Homo sapiens: one gene and its partners. The protein of the gene in region 2 purifies or fractionates together with the protein of the main gene of each other region. This does not show direct contact. Each region holds a gene or a part of one and is shown on either strand. Other genes may lie near its edges.

What was found. Proteins that work in one complex are often made in the same cells at the same time.
Region 1: the proteins of CLEC2B (region 2) and ARFGEF2 purify together in Homo sapiens (affinity purification with mass spectrometry; one large-scale study listed by BioGRID and IntAct). This does not show direct contact.
Region 3: the proteins of CLEC2B (region 2) and EDEM3 purify together in Homo sapiens (affinity purification with mass spectrometry; one large-scale study listed by BioGRID and IntAct). This does not show direct contact.
Region 4: the proteins of CLEC2B (region 2) and DIPK1A purify together in Homo sapiens (affinity purification with mass spectrometry; one large-scale study listed by BioGRID and IntAct). This does not show direct contact.

Annotation. Positions count from the first base shown.
Region 1 is NC_000020.11:48,970,211-48,973,710, forward strand, and holds part of ARFGEF2 (brefeldin A-inhibited guanine nucleotide-exchange protein 2), read left to right. Parts: intron 1-909; coding exon 910-1,144; intron 1,145-2,115; coding exon 2,116-2,215; intron 2,216-2,934; coding exon 2,935-3,074; intron 3,075-3,500. UniProt on the Homo sapiens protein: Promotes guanine-nucleotide exchange on ARF1 and ARF3 and to a lower extent on ARF5 and ARF6. Promotes the activation of ARF1/ARF5/ARF6 through replacement of GDP with GTP. Involved in the regulation of Golgi vesicular transport.
Region 2 is NC_000012.12:9,862,855-9,866,354, forward strand, and holds part of CLEC2B (C-type lectin domain family 2 member B), read right to left. Parts: intron 1-3,500. UniProt on the Homo sapiens protein: Membrane-bound protein expressed on myeloid cells which acts as a ligand to stimulate the activating receptor NKp80/KLRF1, expressed on the surface of natural killer (NK) cells.
Region 3 is NC_000001.11:184,720,359-184,723,858, forward strand, and holds part of EDEM3 (ER degradation-enhancing alpha-mannosidase-like protein 3 isoform 2 precursor), read right to left. Parts: intron 3,499-3,500; coding exon 3,393-3,498; intron 1,029-3,392; coding exon 931-1,028; intron 1-930. UniProt on the Homo sapiens protein: Involved in endoplasmic reticulum-associated degradation (ERAD). Accelerates the glycoprotein ERAD by proteasomes, by catalyzing mannose trimming from Man8GlcNAc2 to Man7GlcNAc2 in the N-glycans.
Region 4 is NC_000001.11:92,951,463-92,954,962, forward strand, and holds part of DIPK1A (divergent protein kinase domain 1A), read right to left. Parts: intron 1-3,500.

The sequences.
Region 1 (3,500 bases), on a different chromosome or scaffold from region 2:
AAGCTGAGGCAAGAGAATCGCTTGAACCCAGGAGGCAGAGGTTGCAGTGAGCTGAGATCGTGTCACTGAACTCTAGCCTGGGCAACAGAGCAACAATAAATTTTAAAAAATAAAAATAGGCCGGGCGCGGTAGCTCACGCCTGTAATCCCAGCACTTTGGGAGGCCGAGGCGGGCGGATCATGAGGTCAAGAGATCGAGACCATCCTGGCCAACATGGTGAAACCCCATCTCTACTAAAAATACAAAAAATTAGCCGGGCATGGTGGCAGGCGCCTGTAATCCCAGCTACTCTGGAGGCTGAGGCAGGAGAATCGCTTGAACCCAGGAGACGGAGGTTGCAGTGAGCCGAGATTTGTGCCATTGCACTCCAGCCTGGACAAAAAGAGCAAAACTCCGTCTCAAAAAAATAAATAAATAAATAAAATAAAATAAAAATAAGTGTTAAGAAAATAGTTCATGAAAATGTACCATTTCTTACCATACCTGAACTCCGGCATGGGCAGTGGGGAGGGAGGGCTGTGAGGTAGGTGGATAAAGAGCGCCATCTTCATGGTGTGTGAAACAGAGTGAGCCAGGTGTCTCAGCCTCCCACAAGTGATGTAAAGTCATTGATTCTTGCAGTACAGTTGCAGAACTCGCTCTCCAGAATCAGTTGACACTTTGCTCCTGCTGTATTCTCTACTTTGTGATGGAAAGAGACAAATAGGAGTTGGCAGCTCTTGTTCTCAAAGGGCCTGCGATTCCAGAAGGACCCAACTCATGCCATCTGCCCTCATTCTCCTGACATTTAGGTGCTATTAATTCTTTAAAATTCTACTCATTGGTAAAGGAGCAAGGCCTTCTCAAGAAACATACTGTTTGACATTTTTTCTTTTAGCACTGTTGTGGTTTTTCATTTTCTTTGCCAGATCCCATGAGCTGCGTTCCAAGGTGGTTTCCCTGCAGCTGCTCCTCTCTGTGTTGCAAAATGCTGGCCCCGTATTCAGGACTCACGAGATGTTCATCAATGCAATCAAGCAATATCTCTGTGTGGCCTTGTCCAAAAACGGCGTCTCTTCAGTGCCTGATGTCTTTGAGCTCTCTCTTGCCATTTTTCTTACTCTTCTTTCAAACTTTAAAATGCACTTGAAAATGCAGATAGAGGTACGGATTCCAAAGTTTTTTCATTTCATTATTTACTATTATTATTAGTCATTAATTATAATACTCAATATTGAGAATGCTGCTAATATTACACTAAGCATTAGGAAAATGGTTCATGAAAATGTTTCATATCTTACCATCCTGGAACTCAGAAGTGGGCAGGGGCAGGGAGGGTAAATGGCATATTCATCGGCTGGCACCCCAGTAAATCAGAACTTTTTGAATGAGTAAGAGAATATCTTTTTATAAAAAGTTACTGCCCCCAGCCTGGGCGCCATGGCTCACGCCTGTAATCCCAGCACTTTGGGAAGCTGAGGCGGGCGGATCATGAGGTCAGGAGATCGAGACCATCCTGGCTAACATGGTGAAACCCCGTCTCTACTAAAAATACAAAAAATTAGCCAGGCGTGGTGGCAGGCGCCTGTAGTCCCAGCTACTCGGGAGGCTGAGGCAGGAGAATGGCATGAACCCGGGAGGCGGAGCTTGCAGTGAGCCAAGATTGCACCACTGCACTCCAGCCTGGGCAACAGGGCGAGACTCCATCTCAAAAAAAAAAAGTTACTGCCCCCGGATCTTATGTGCCTTTCATTTTAACCAATATGGTCTGTCTGCTGGGCTCAGCCCCCTAAACATATCTGTTTGGTCTGTAAATTGTTTGAAATCATTTAGATTAGTCGCCAAATTGAGAAATCCTATTTTACATGAAAATCCAGATTTCTGGTTTCTCTCCAAAAAGTCACAGTATGGGTCCTGCATTTCCACTTGGCAGCTCCCCAGTGGGCCCCACCCTGCCAGCCGTCCCCACCAAGGCCAGGGTCCCGTTGCTGCCCAGCCAGGTGGGCACTCCACTCTTCTTCTGCCCAGGGTGCTTTACTTACTGCACGACTGGGTTGGCTGCTGAAGACTTTGGAGGTTTTGAGCCCTGGTTGAAACTGTTAATTAGTGTCCTCCTTTGTCTTTATGTCATATAGGTCTTTTTCAAAGAGATTTTCCTGAACATTTTAGAAACATCAACAAGTTCTTTTGAGCACAGGTGGATGGTCATTCAGACTCTGACGAGGATCTGTGCAGGTATTTCCACCTGGGGACACTCATCCACTGGACTTCTGATGCTTTAATTTGCCACAGCTCAGATTAAGACTTCTAACCCCTCCTTTTAGAGTTTTAAAGGATTGGCAATAAAAGGCTAATTCTAACCTAGTCCTGCCCCACCTCTCCTTTTTTAGAGGATGACCAACTTAGGCTGGTTTGCCAAGGACTTCCTGGTTTTAGCACTAAAAGTCTCATGTCCCAGAAACCCCCTAATCTCGTCAAACTGGGACACTTGGTTACGTTACCTACAAGCTGAGTACTGTTAATCACAGGACCTAAGATACTGGTGCTGCCAATTTTTGATTGGGTGCTACGGTAAATGTGGATTTACCTTACACTATACAATTGTGTGGCCTCAAAGTAAGCATCCTGCTTGTCTGGCATCAAATGTAATTTTGTAAGAGTGACACAACTTTAAGAGGTGGGTCAGGCAATTGTTAACCCCTTCCTTGATGAGAAAATTGAGGCTTGGATGGGTGGAATGAACTGCCTGAGATTTCAATTTGCTCAGAAGCAGGCCTAAAAACAACCTCCTGTCTTCCAGCTTCCTAGTACTTCCAACATGTGTTTCCTGAGTGAGATGTGGCCACCGGAGTCTGTAGTTCACTGGGGAAATTTGTTGGCAAACATCTTGTTTGATAAGAAAACCTAACTGCTATTTGATCAGAATTTCTGATACTTGTATGTTATTTTCCAAGATGCCCAGTGTGTTGTGGATATTTATGTCAACTACGACTGTGATTTAAATGCTGCTAACATTTTTGAGCGCCTTGTAAATGATTTATCCAAAATTGCTCAGGGAAGAAGTGGACATGAGCTGGGAATGACACCTCTGCAGGTAAAAACACTGTGGACACTCAATTATATTAAAGTTTATTCATTCCAATAAACATTTATTGAGTGCCACCACATGCCAGGCACTGTCCTTGATACAGCAGTGAACAAAACAGGAATGCATATTCACACACTTCCTGCCATCATGAAACGACATTAAAGAAGTCAGTTCAGATGATCATAGGGGCTGCAGAGAAAAATAAAGCAGGGACGGCAGAGAGGAAGTGCTGAAGGTGGGGTGCTGTAATTCTTAATGGGGCCATTAGGGTAGTATCCCTTAGAAGGTGACCTTTGAGCTGAGACCCATAGGAAGCAAATTCATTCTCAGTCACCCTTCCAAAGATAGCGTGGAAAACAGGATCCCAGTCTGCAATAGGGGCAAAGGAGATTGGCTAGTAGCAGAATACCTCATTAGAGCACCTACAAAGAA
Region 2 (3,500 bases):
ACATCATTTCTATACTGGAAAAAGTGAGATCAAGATGGATAACCAGCTTCCCCACCAGCTTGAGTTTCCTGGCAGGAAACTTGCCCCTGCCTTAACACTTGGGAAGCATCGGGGTGCCTGAACGAGGACAGGCAGAGACAAAGTGGGGAGGCAGGACTACCATCCCCAATACCAGAAACTGTGCTCTGTTACTTGGCCAAAGGAGATGTCAACTTAGAGTGGCTGTCGAGCAGCATCATGGTATAGGAGGTTTGTTGCACAGGTCCCCTGGGCTGGAACACCTCGTCAGTCTTCCCACACTACTGGGATATCCCCTTTGGAAGCACCCTCATTTGGTATGAGTGGCACTCTAATTGTTTACTAGAACCAAGGCAAACCTGGGTTAAGGCACCATGTAGTCATAACAAGGAGGCCGAAACCTAGCTGCCGCCCCCCACCCCCAAAAAAATCGACAGGTAAATTACAAGGAATATTTAAACAAACATATTCAATGTAAACCAAAACAAGCCATATAAAATCCTTCAACACAAAGACATAGATGCATATCCATAAGAAACAACAGCAAACAGGGAACTGCGATACCCCTAAATGGACAAAGTCGGAATCAGAGACAGATCTTAATGAAATGGCAATATGTGAGCACTTGTACCAAGAATTCAAAATAGTAGTTTTAAGAAAACTCACTGGTCTCTAAAATAACACAAAAAACAATTCAGAAATATATCAGAGGAATTTAACAAAGGGATTGAAATAATTTTTAAAAATCAAAAAGTGATATTGGAACTGAAAAATACATTTGCTGAACCGAAAATTTTATTAGCGGCTCTCAAAAGAGAATGGATCAAGAAGAAGAAATAATCGGTGAGCATGAGGATGGGCTTTTGAAAATACACAAGGAAAGGAGAAAAAAAGAATAAAAAGGAAGGAAGAATGCCAACATCTTGTAGAAAATTACTGCAAAAGACCATATCTAAGAATTATTGGTGTTTAAGAGAGAGTCAAACCAGAGCAAGAGGTAGAAAGCTTATTCAAAGAAATAATAACAGAAAGTATTACAAAGCTTGAGAAAGAGATAAAGATTCAGGCAGATAAAGGTCAGAGAACACCAAACAGATTCCGACCCCAACAAGACTACCCCTAGGCATAGAATAATCAAACTCTCAAAGGTCAAGGAAAAAGAGAGGATCCTAAAATCAGCAAGAGAAGAGAAGCAAATAATATTTAAAGGAGCTCCAATTTATCTGATGATAGACGTCTCAGTGGAAACCATACAGACCAAGAGAAAAGTGATGACATTTTTTAAGTGCTGAAAAAAAAAAAAAACCCTGCCATCTAAGAATACCATATCCTGCAAAGCTGACCTTCAAATATGAAGAAGAGACAATGTTTCCCAGACAAACAAAAACTGAGAGAATTCACCACCACCAGACATATCTTATAAGAAATGCTAAAGGGAGTTCTTCAACCAAAAAGAAAAAAACACACGAACAGAAAACAGCTGAATATCTAAAATACACTGATAAAATTAAGTGTATGCACAAACCCAGAATACTCTAATACTGTAATTGTGGTGCACAATCTTCTCATATCCCTAGTAATGAAGACTGGAAGATAAATCTATCAAGAACAATGATAACTGCAGAAACCAGTTAAGAGGTAAGCAATAAAAATATGTGAATTGGGAAAACTAAATTAAAAATGTGTGAGGGTGGAGTAAAAGTGTTTTTTTCCTTTGTTGCTATTCTTTGTGATATAAGTTGTTATCTCTTTAAAATAACTTGTTATATCTATAAGATTTTTTATAAGCCTCATAGTAATCACAATGCAAAACCTATAGTAGAGTCATTAAAAATAAAAAGCAACTAATTAATATATACCACCAGAGAAAATTATATAACCCCAAAGAATGACAGTAAGAAAAGAAAAAAGAGAGAAATTTAAAAACAACCATAAAACAAGCAACAAAACAGCCCCAGAAAATCCTTACTTAACAATAACATGGAATTTAAATGAACTCAACTCTCCAATTAAAAGACATAAAGTGCAGGCCGGGTGCAGTGGCTCACGCCTGTAATCCCAGAATTTTGGGAGGCCAAGGCAGGCAGATCATTTGAGGTCAGGAGCTCAAGACTAGCCTGTCCAACATAACGAAACCACATTTCTACTAAAAATACAAAACTTAGCTTGGTGTGGTGGTGTATGCCTGTGATCCTGGCTACTCAGGAGGCTGAGGCAGGAGAGTCGCTTGAATCCAGGAGTTGGAGGCTGCAGTGATCTGAGATCATGCCACTCCACTCCAGCCTGGGCAATAAAGCAAGACTCTCTCAAAAAAAAAAAAAAAAAAAAAGCATAAAGTTAAAGTGGCTGACTTGGTAAAGAGAAAACCCTAACTGTATGCAGCCTACAGGAAATCTGCTTCACCTATAAAGACACACAGAGAATGAAAGTGAAGGGGATGAACAAAGATATTCCATGCAAATAGAAACCAAAAAAGCCGGAGCAGCTATACTTATATCAGATAAAATAGATTACAAAACTTTAAAAGACTACTTTAAAAAGAGACAAAGGTTACTATATAATGCTAAAGAGGTCAATTCAGCAAGAGGATATGACAGTTCTAAAAATCTATGGACCCAACACCAGATCTCCCAAGTATATAAAGCAAACATTCATTGATCTAAAGGGAGAGATAGACTGCAATGCAATAATATTGGGGGACTTTAACTCCTCACCCTGAGTAATGGACAGATAATCTAAACAGGAAATCAACAAGGAATATTGGAGTTATACTGCACACTTTACCAAATATATCCAACTGACACGTACAGAAGCACTGCTGCAGAATACTCATTATTTTTATCAGTACATGGAGCATTCTCCAGAACAGACCACATTGTAGGCCAAAAAACAAGTCTCAATAAATTAAAAAAAGTAGAAATCTAATCAAGTATCTTTTCTGACCACAATGGGATGAAACTAGAAGTCAATAACTTGAGAAACCTCAGAAACTGCACAAACATGAAAATTAAATAATGTGCTCCTTAACGACCAAAGAGTCAATGTTGAAATTAAGAAAATTTTAAAAATTTCTTGAAACAAATGAAAATGGAAGCACAATAAACTAAAATCTGTGGAATGCAGAAAAGCAGTACAAAGAAGGAAGTTTATAGTAATAAATGCCTTTAAAAAAAGGTAAAAAGACTTCAGATAAATAACCTAATGATGAACTTAAAGGATTTGTAAGAGCAAGAACAAACCAAACCCCAAATTAGTAGAAAAAAGAAGTGTTAAAAAATCAAGCTCTTTCTGATGAGGTTTCTTATCTTTCATATATAACCTTATTAATATCATGAATTATTTATTAATTTTCTTTAAACCTCAGGTATCGAAAAGACAGGAAGTTTTTTCTCTGTTTTCAATGCCATGAATCAAGTAAATATGTCAGTATGTCATTCCGTTTTTCTCCCCATGAATTGGCATAATGTAAAAATATAGATGTT
Region 3 (3,500 bases), on a different chromosome or scaffold from region 2:
ATAAACTCAATCCTCCCAATAACCCTATAAATAGTACTAGTACTCCCATTCTGTAGATGAGAAACAGAGGCAAATAATATTAGTTACTTGCCCAAAGTCACAAAACCCGTAGGTGGTACAATCAGAATTTAAACCAGTACATCTCCCATACTTTTTTTTTTTTTTTTTTGAGACGGAGTTTCGCTCTGTCGCCCAGGCTGGAGTGCAGTGGCGCGATCTCGACTCACTGCAAGCTCCGCCTCCCGGGTTCACGCCATTCTCCTCCATACTTTTAATCACCATGTCATACTGTCTCATACATACAACATGGATGAACTGATAGGTGAGCAAGGAAATGGTAGATTAGTTTAAAAAGAATATAGTGATATAACTGATGAGTTTGCTATATTCATTTCAGTTTGCTTCAGTTAAAAAGGTGATTCAATTGGGTTCAATAATCCTCCCACTTTTCCCAAAAAAACATGCTTGTGGTTCTGAACCAGTCTTAAGACTTGCTTTTGAAATGAATACTCACTAGTTTCTCCAGGTCTTCAAAGCCCTGTATCCTTGGTGTAATCAAAGACTAAGCCAAACTTCCAAGATTTCAAAAAGAATTGAAATACAAAGGAAAAAGCTAACTAGTAACATATTTCAATAATTCTTATCCTTGTACAAACAAGATTAGGTAAAACTCAAATCTATTACATCTCTTATTGGCAGATCTGCAAAGTTTCTGATAAAAGGTGAAAATAAAACTACTTTATCAACTGATTTTTTGGAATGTATATCACTTTTTACGCTGTCCCTGTTCAACATCATCAGGAAATACTGACACAAAACCACTACACATTTTAAAAATTATTTTTACAATGTCATTCAGGTAATGGAGTTTCTATAAAAATCTGGACTCAAATGAAGTTGATTATAAAATATAAAATTGTATCAACTTACTGTGTTAAATCTTTCCAGAAAACTGTCATCTCCAAGCAAGACATAGGCTTTCAACAGATATTCATAATATGAATCAATCCCTGCTCCAACTCCACTATCTATGGAAACACAAATGTGATTTTTCATTAAATTTTTTTAAAACCGTTAAATTTTTTTAAAAAAATAGCACTCCTTAGATTAGCATTAAATTAACATTGTGCATATATATGACTACACCAGTTTAGATTTGCCCTGGAACAGATAATTATATTTAAAATAAATAATTTGCTAACTAGTTCATAGTTTAATTAGCTCTTAGTTTCACTAGGTGGAAAATAAGCATCTTGTGTTCTTTAAGAAATTGGTATGTATAAATGAATAGTAAATTCACTTAAATCTTGAGGAAATCTAAAGATGAAGTCTCTTGTTTTGCTTTTTCCTAAAAAGGAAAAAAGAACCAAAGTCAAGAAAAATTAAAGAACAATAATAATATCTACTCTTAAAAAGAAGAAATGTTATCTAACACAAAAATGAAACCTATAGATTCAAAAAAACACCTATTTTACTGTCTTAACCAGTAAAAAAAAAATGATAGGCAGGTGGAGTCTAGACCACTTAGAACTGAACCAACTCTAGACAAAAATGAAGATGGTACAATGCTATGACTGCAAGGAAATGATTTTAAAAATTTCACAGTTTTCATGTTTGTAGCAATATGTTGATGCACAAAATATCAAAAATACAAGTCTGGATTTTTCCTCTTAGGTTTATAATACACTATCAAACTTCTATTTAATGCATTTGTATTTGCATTATAAATGCATTAAGCCTTCTCTGTTTATGTGTATGCTATACAAGCACATACATGCTGGTACGTTACCATGAAAATAATAGTTCTCATCTCAAACTAGTGACTCGTCTTTTTACCCATATTTATATACATTTCATTTCTATTGTAAGACACAACATTTTTCTAGTGGTACATTTAAATCAACATATTATGTTATTTTAAATCTTCATTTTTAAATGAGTCTTTTTAGTGTTATGACATAATGGATTTAATTTAACAGCTGAAGTATGATATGGTAACCACACTGTACTATTTAATTCACAGATGTAGGAAAATATTTGATTTTTAAACTATAACCAAGATGAGACCAGACAGTTATAAGCAGTGAAATACTAGAAAACAGTGAATGAATACACAAGATGACTTTTCATCAGTGGCCATTCAATATTTTGCTTTTAGGAACTTGGAAGAAATTGTCTTGAGTTTCAAATGTTCTGGTAAATCTAGTCATTTCTTAGCTTCCTCAGTATCACCCTGAATTACTGAAATAACTGACTGTGAAGAGTCAAAAGTTCTTTTCTGTCATTTAGATGACACAGAAAAATTTTATACAATACTGAATAAAGGTAATAATTTTAATATGTTTGAATTAATAATTTTATAATTTTTATTTATTTAAATATAGGCAGTTACCATTTATTTTACATATAAACAAGATAAGCTTTTTAGAAATAGAGAAAATGTATAAAAAAGATGCTTTCATTAAGAATATTCTAATTTATTTCCATTCATCTATGCTTATCAGGGTGTTTTATAAAGATAAAATCACAGTTCTTTGTACAATTCAATATCCTGTTTGTTCATATAACATTGTTACATGTTCCTTCCCATGCTCCTGATTTATTTTAATAACAATATTCCAACGCTGATGTAAAATAATTTTCTTAGCTTTTTTTACTGATGGTTAGACTGTTTCCCAATTTTCTGCTATTTATAAATAATTGCATGGGAACATCTTGGGAACAAATAATTTTCTATGTTTTGTATTATTCCTCAGACTAGATTCCCAGAAGTAAAATTATTAATCAAAAGGACTAACATCTCGTTACTGGGCACTTACTTCATAGTAAGTGTAGTACATGCCCGGCACTGTTCTAAGCACTTTACTTTGGTTAACTCATTTAATCCTCATACAGAACAACTAATTACTATTAATATGCCCACTTTACAGATATGGAATAGAGAGGCACACAGAGGTTAAATAAGTTTCCCAAGATCACATAGCTTGAATCCAACAACATGACCCCAGAGTCTATGCTCTTAGCTACTATATTTCTGGAGGTAGGAGAAAAAAAGAATTTATTAAACCCATATTCTTACTAAACCACACCTTGACGTGAGATGGCTGCAGAAATCTGGTTCTCTAGTTTTCAAATAAATTATAGCGTTTCATCTACACCCTATACCTATAATGCTATATCCATTAAGAAATAGAATACTAAATCATGTAGAAGAAGTGTGTCACATTTGGCATCAAAAAAGAAAATCTGGCTAAATTAATTAAAATTCCAGCAATCTTGTGAGAACCTATGCTTTATAGTATCCCAAAGATTATTTTAACAAATGAAAATTCTTTATTTCCCAACCATTTTGAGGATGCAAAGGCTTGATTTAAAAAGCCTAACTTACATACCTTTTCGTACCCAATCTCCAGTATGAATATTTATAGTCACGCCCACTAAATTACTACTTCGCTGTCTTTTTTCCCAGAGAAAATCAAGAGCTTTTCTGGCATATTCCT
Region 4 (3,500 bases), on a different chromosome or scaffold from region 2:
GGTGACACTGATTTCAACCTTGTGAAACTTGGAGCAGAGAAACAGCTGAGTCACACTGTGCCCTGACTTCTAAGTTAACAAAACTCTGAGATCAGGGTACAAACAAATGGGCGTTGTTTTAAGCCACTAAATTTGTGGTAATTCGTTACAGGAGCACTGGAAAACTAATACTCTTTATTTAATCACTGACTTCAAATATGCTCTGTCAAATCTCATTTTTCTATTAAGAGATGTAACTTTGAACAGAGTTCATACATTTCCAGTCATACTCAATTACTATAAAATCCAGTCTAATTTACTTTCCCCAAACTAATTTTGAAAATGTTTAAACCTACAGAAAATTTAAAAGACTAATACAATGAATACTCTTATACCCTATACCTACCTATATTTATCAACTGCTAACATTGTTCTAATTTATTTGCCTTTTCACTCTTCCTAAATATACATAAATACTCCCCCGCCCCCCACCCTCTCCTTCTCTGTATCAGGCATTCTAAACTGTAGATGATTTTGCCCCCCAGAGGACAACTTATCATCAGGAAAATGAAATTAAAACTACAATGAAATACCAACTCACACCCATGAGAATGGCCACTCTTTAAAAAAAAAAAAAACACACACAAATGTCTGGAGACATATCTGATAGTCACTACTGGGGGAATGCTACTGATATCTAACGGGTAGAGCCCATGGATGCTGCTAAACATCCTGCAACACCAAGTCCCACACAATTATCCAGCCCAAAATATCAATAATGCTGAGATTAAGAAACCCTGCTTTCTGTATATGTATATACAAACATTTTTTTCCTGAACCATTTGTAAGTAAATTACAGACATTATGATACTTTTTACCCTAAAGGCTTTAGTTTTGGCTGGGCATAGTGGCTCACGCCTGTAATGCCAGGACTTTGGGAGGCCAAGGTGGGCCGACTGCTTGAGCCCAGGAGTTCGAGACCAGCCTGGGCAACATGGTGAAACCTGGTCTCTACAAAAAATACAAAAACTAGCCAGGTGTGGTGGCACAGGCCTGTGGGCCCAGCTATTTGGGAGGCTGAGGTGGGAGATCGCTTGAGCCAGGAAGGCTAGGTTGCAGTGAACCATTGAGCCATGATGACGCCACTGCACTCCAGCCTGGGTAACAAAGCAAGACTTTGCCTGAAAAAAACACTACAGTTTATATTTTCTGAAAACCAGAACACTATCCCATACAGCACAATTTAACATTGATACAATACTACTATCCAATATGTAATCCATTTTCAAATTTCCCCGTAATCTAAAAAAAATCCTTTATGGCTTTTTTTTAAAAAAAAATACAGGATCCAATGAAAGGTACATAGGATGGCAGCCTGATCAACATTCTAGATTTAAAATAAATAAGGAGTCCCAATTTTCAAGCAGTGGGGGACAGGGAGTAAAACTTGTGGCACTAGCTCTAAGATCTAATAATAGTCTATGACTCTGATACTATGCTACATCTGAAATGGATGTACTAATTCAGAAGCTTGTTAATACATTAAAATCTCTCTTGGAAGAATATCTTCAAACATGTTTACCCTGTTCTTAAGAAAGGGGAACTCTGCTCACAATAACACATAACCCTGTTGAATAAATATCAATCTGAAACAACAAATCAAGAAGGAACTTTCTCCAAAGAAGATATACAAATGGCCAAAAAGCATATGAAAAGATGTTCAACACCACTAATCATCAGGAAAGTGAATAAAAACTAAAACAAGGTATCAGCTCACGCCCGTGAGAATGGTCACTCTTAAAAAAAAAAAAAGAAAAGAAGTGCAGACGGGGATGTGGAAAAATTGAAACCCTTGTGTATTGTTGGTGGGAATGTAAAAGGGTAAAGCCACTTTGGAAAACAGTATGAAGGTTGCTAAAAAAATTAAAAATAGAATTACCATGTGATCCAACAATCCCACTTCTGGATATACAAAAAAATTGAAAGCAAGATCTCAAAGAGATATTTGCACTCCCATGTTCATTGTAGTACAATTCACAATAGCCAAGAGGTAGAGGCAACCTAAATGTTCATCGACTAATGAATGGATAAAGGAAATGTGGAATATACATACAATGGAATACTATTCACCTTTAAAAAAGAAGGAAATCCTGTCATAATCTACATGGGTGACATTATGTTAAGTGAAATAAGGCAGTCACAAAAAGACAAATGCTGTGTGATTCCACTTATATGAAGTATAAAGCAGTCTAATGGAAACAGAAAGCAGAATGTGGTCACCAAGGGCCAGGGGCAGGAGGAAATGAGGAGTCGTTCAATGGGTAGAGTTTCGACTTTGCAGGATGAAGAAGTTCTAGAGATCTGCTGCACAGATCTTTGTTGCTGCACAAAGTGCATAAAATAGTTAATACTACTATACTATATGCTTAAAAATGGTTAAGATAGCAAATTTTATGTGCTTTTGACCATAATTTAAAAAAACAAAAAATGAAACAGAAAAAAATAACCACCATTCCATGATCACACCTAAGAAAGATAACTATTTAATTTCATTAAATACCCAATCAACAACAAAAAAGGAATTGCTTATTTTCAAAGATAAATTCATTTACTAATATTTTGGGTTATTAAAACATGCACATTGCAATATCCTGGTTTTCTAAACTCGCATACTTCGTAGATTAAAAAGTTTTAAAGGAAAATTATTTGCAAATGATTTGAACATCTAGAAATGAATATGGCCAGACATAGTAGCTCATACATATAATCCTAGCATTTTGGAAGTCCAAGGTGGGAAGGTGCACTTGAACCCAGGAGTTTGAGACCAGCCTGGGCAACAAAGCAAGACCCTGTCTCACAAAAAAAAAAATAAATAAATAAATAAAAGAAATGGATATGTTAAAAATATTAACACTTTATCTTTTCTTTCTTTTTTTTTTTTTTTTTTTTGTTTTGAGACAGAGTCTCACTCTGTCACCCAGACTGGAGTGCAGTGGCGTGATCTTGGCTCACTGCAACCTCCAACTCCCGGGTTCAAGCTCTCCCACCTCAGCCTCCCAAGTAGCTGGGACTACAGGCACATGCCACCATACCCGGCTATTTTTTGTACTTTTAGTAGAGACAGGGTTTCGCCACATTGGCCAGACTGGTCTCAAACTCCTGACCTCAAGTGATCCACCTGCCTCAGCCTCTCAAAGTGCTGGGATTACAGACGTGAGCCTCCGTGCCCAGCCGACAACACCTTACCTCTTCAATCAGACAATGTAAAATGATGGTATTTAACAGGATGATATAGTGTTGCTTTTAGAAACAACTTTTAAAAATAAAAACAATAAAATGTACCTAACTGCTACAAAAAAAGAAAACTTTCATGGAGAATAAAAAATAATACTATAATCCATCAAGATGAAAAACTGGGGCACTCCACAAAAAAACCTGCACACAGATGTTTATGTAGCAGCCTTATTCATAATTGCCAAATACTGGAAGCAACTAAGATGCCCTTCAGTAAGTGAATGGAT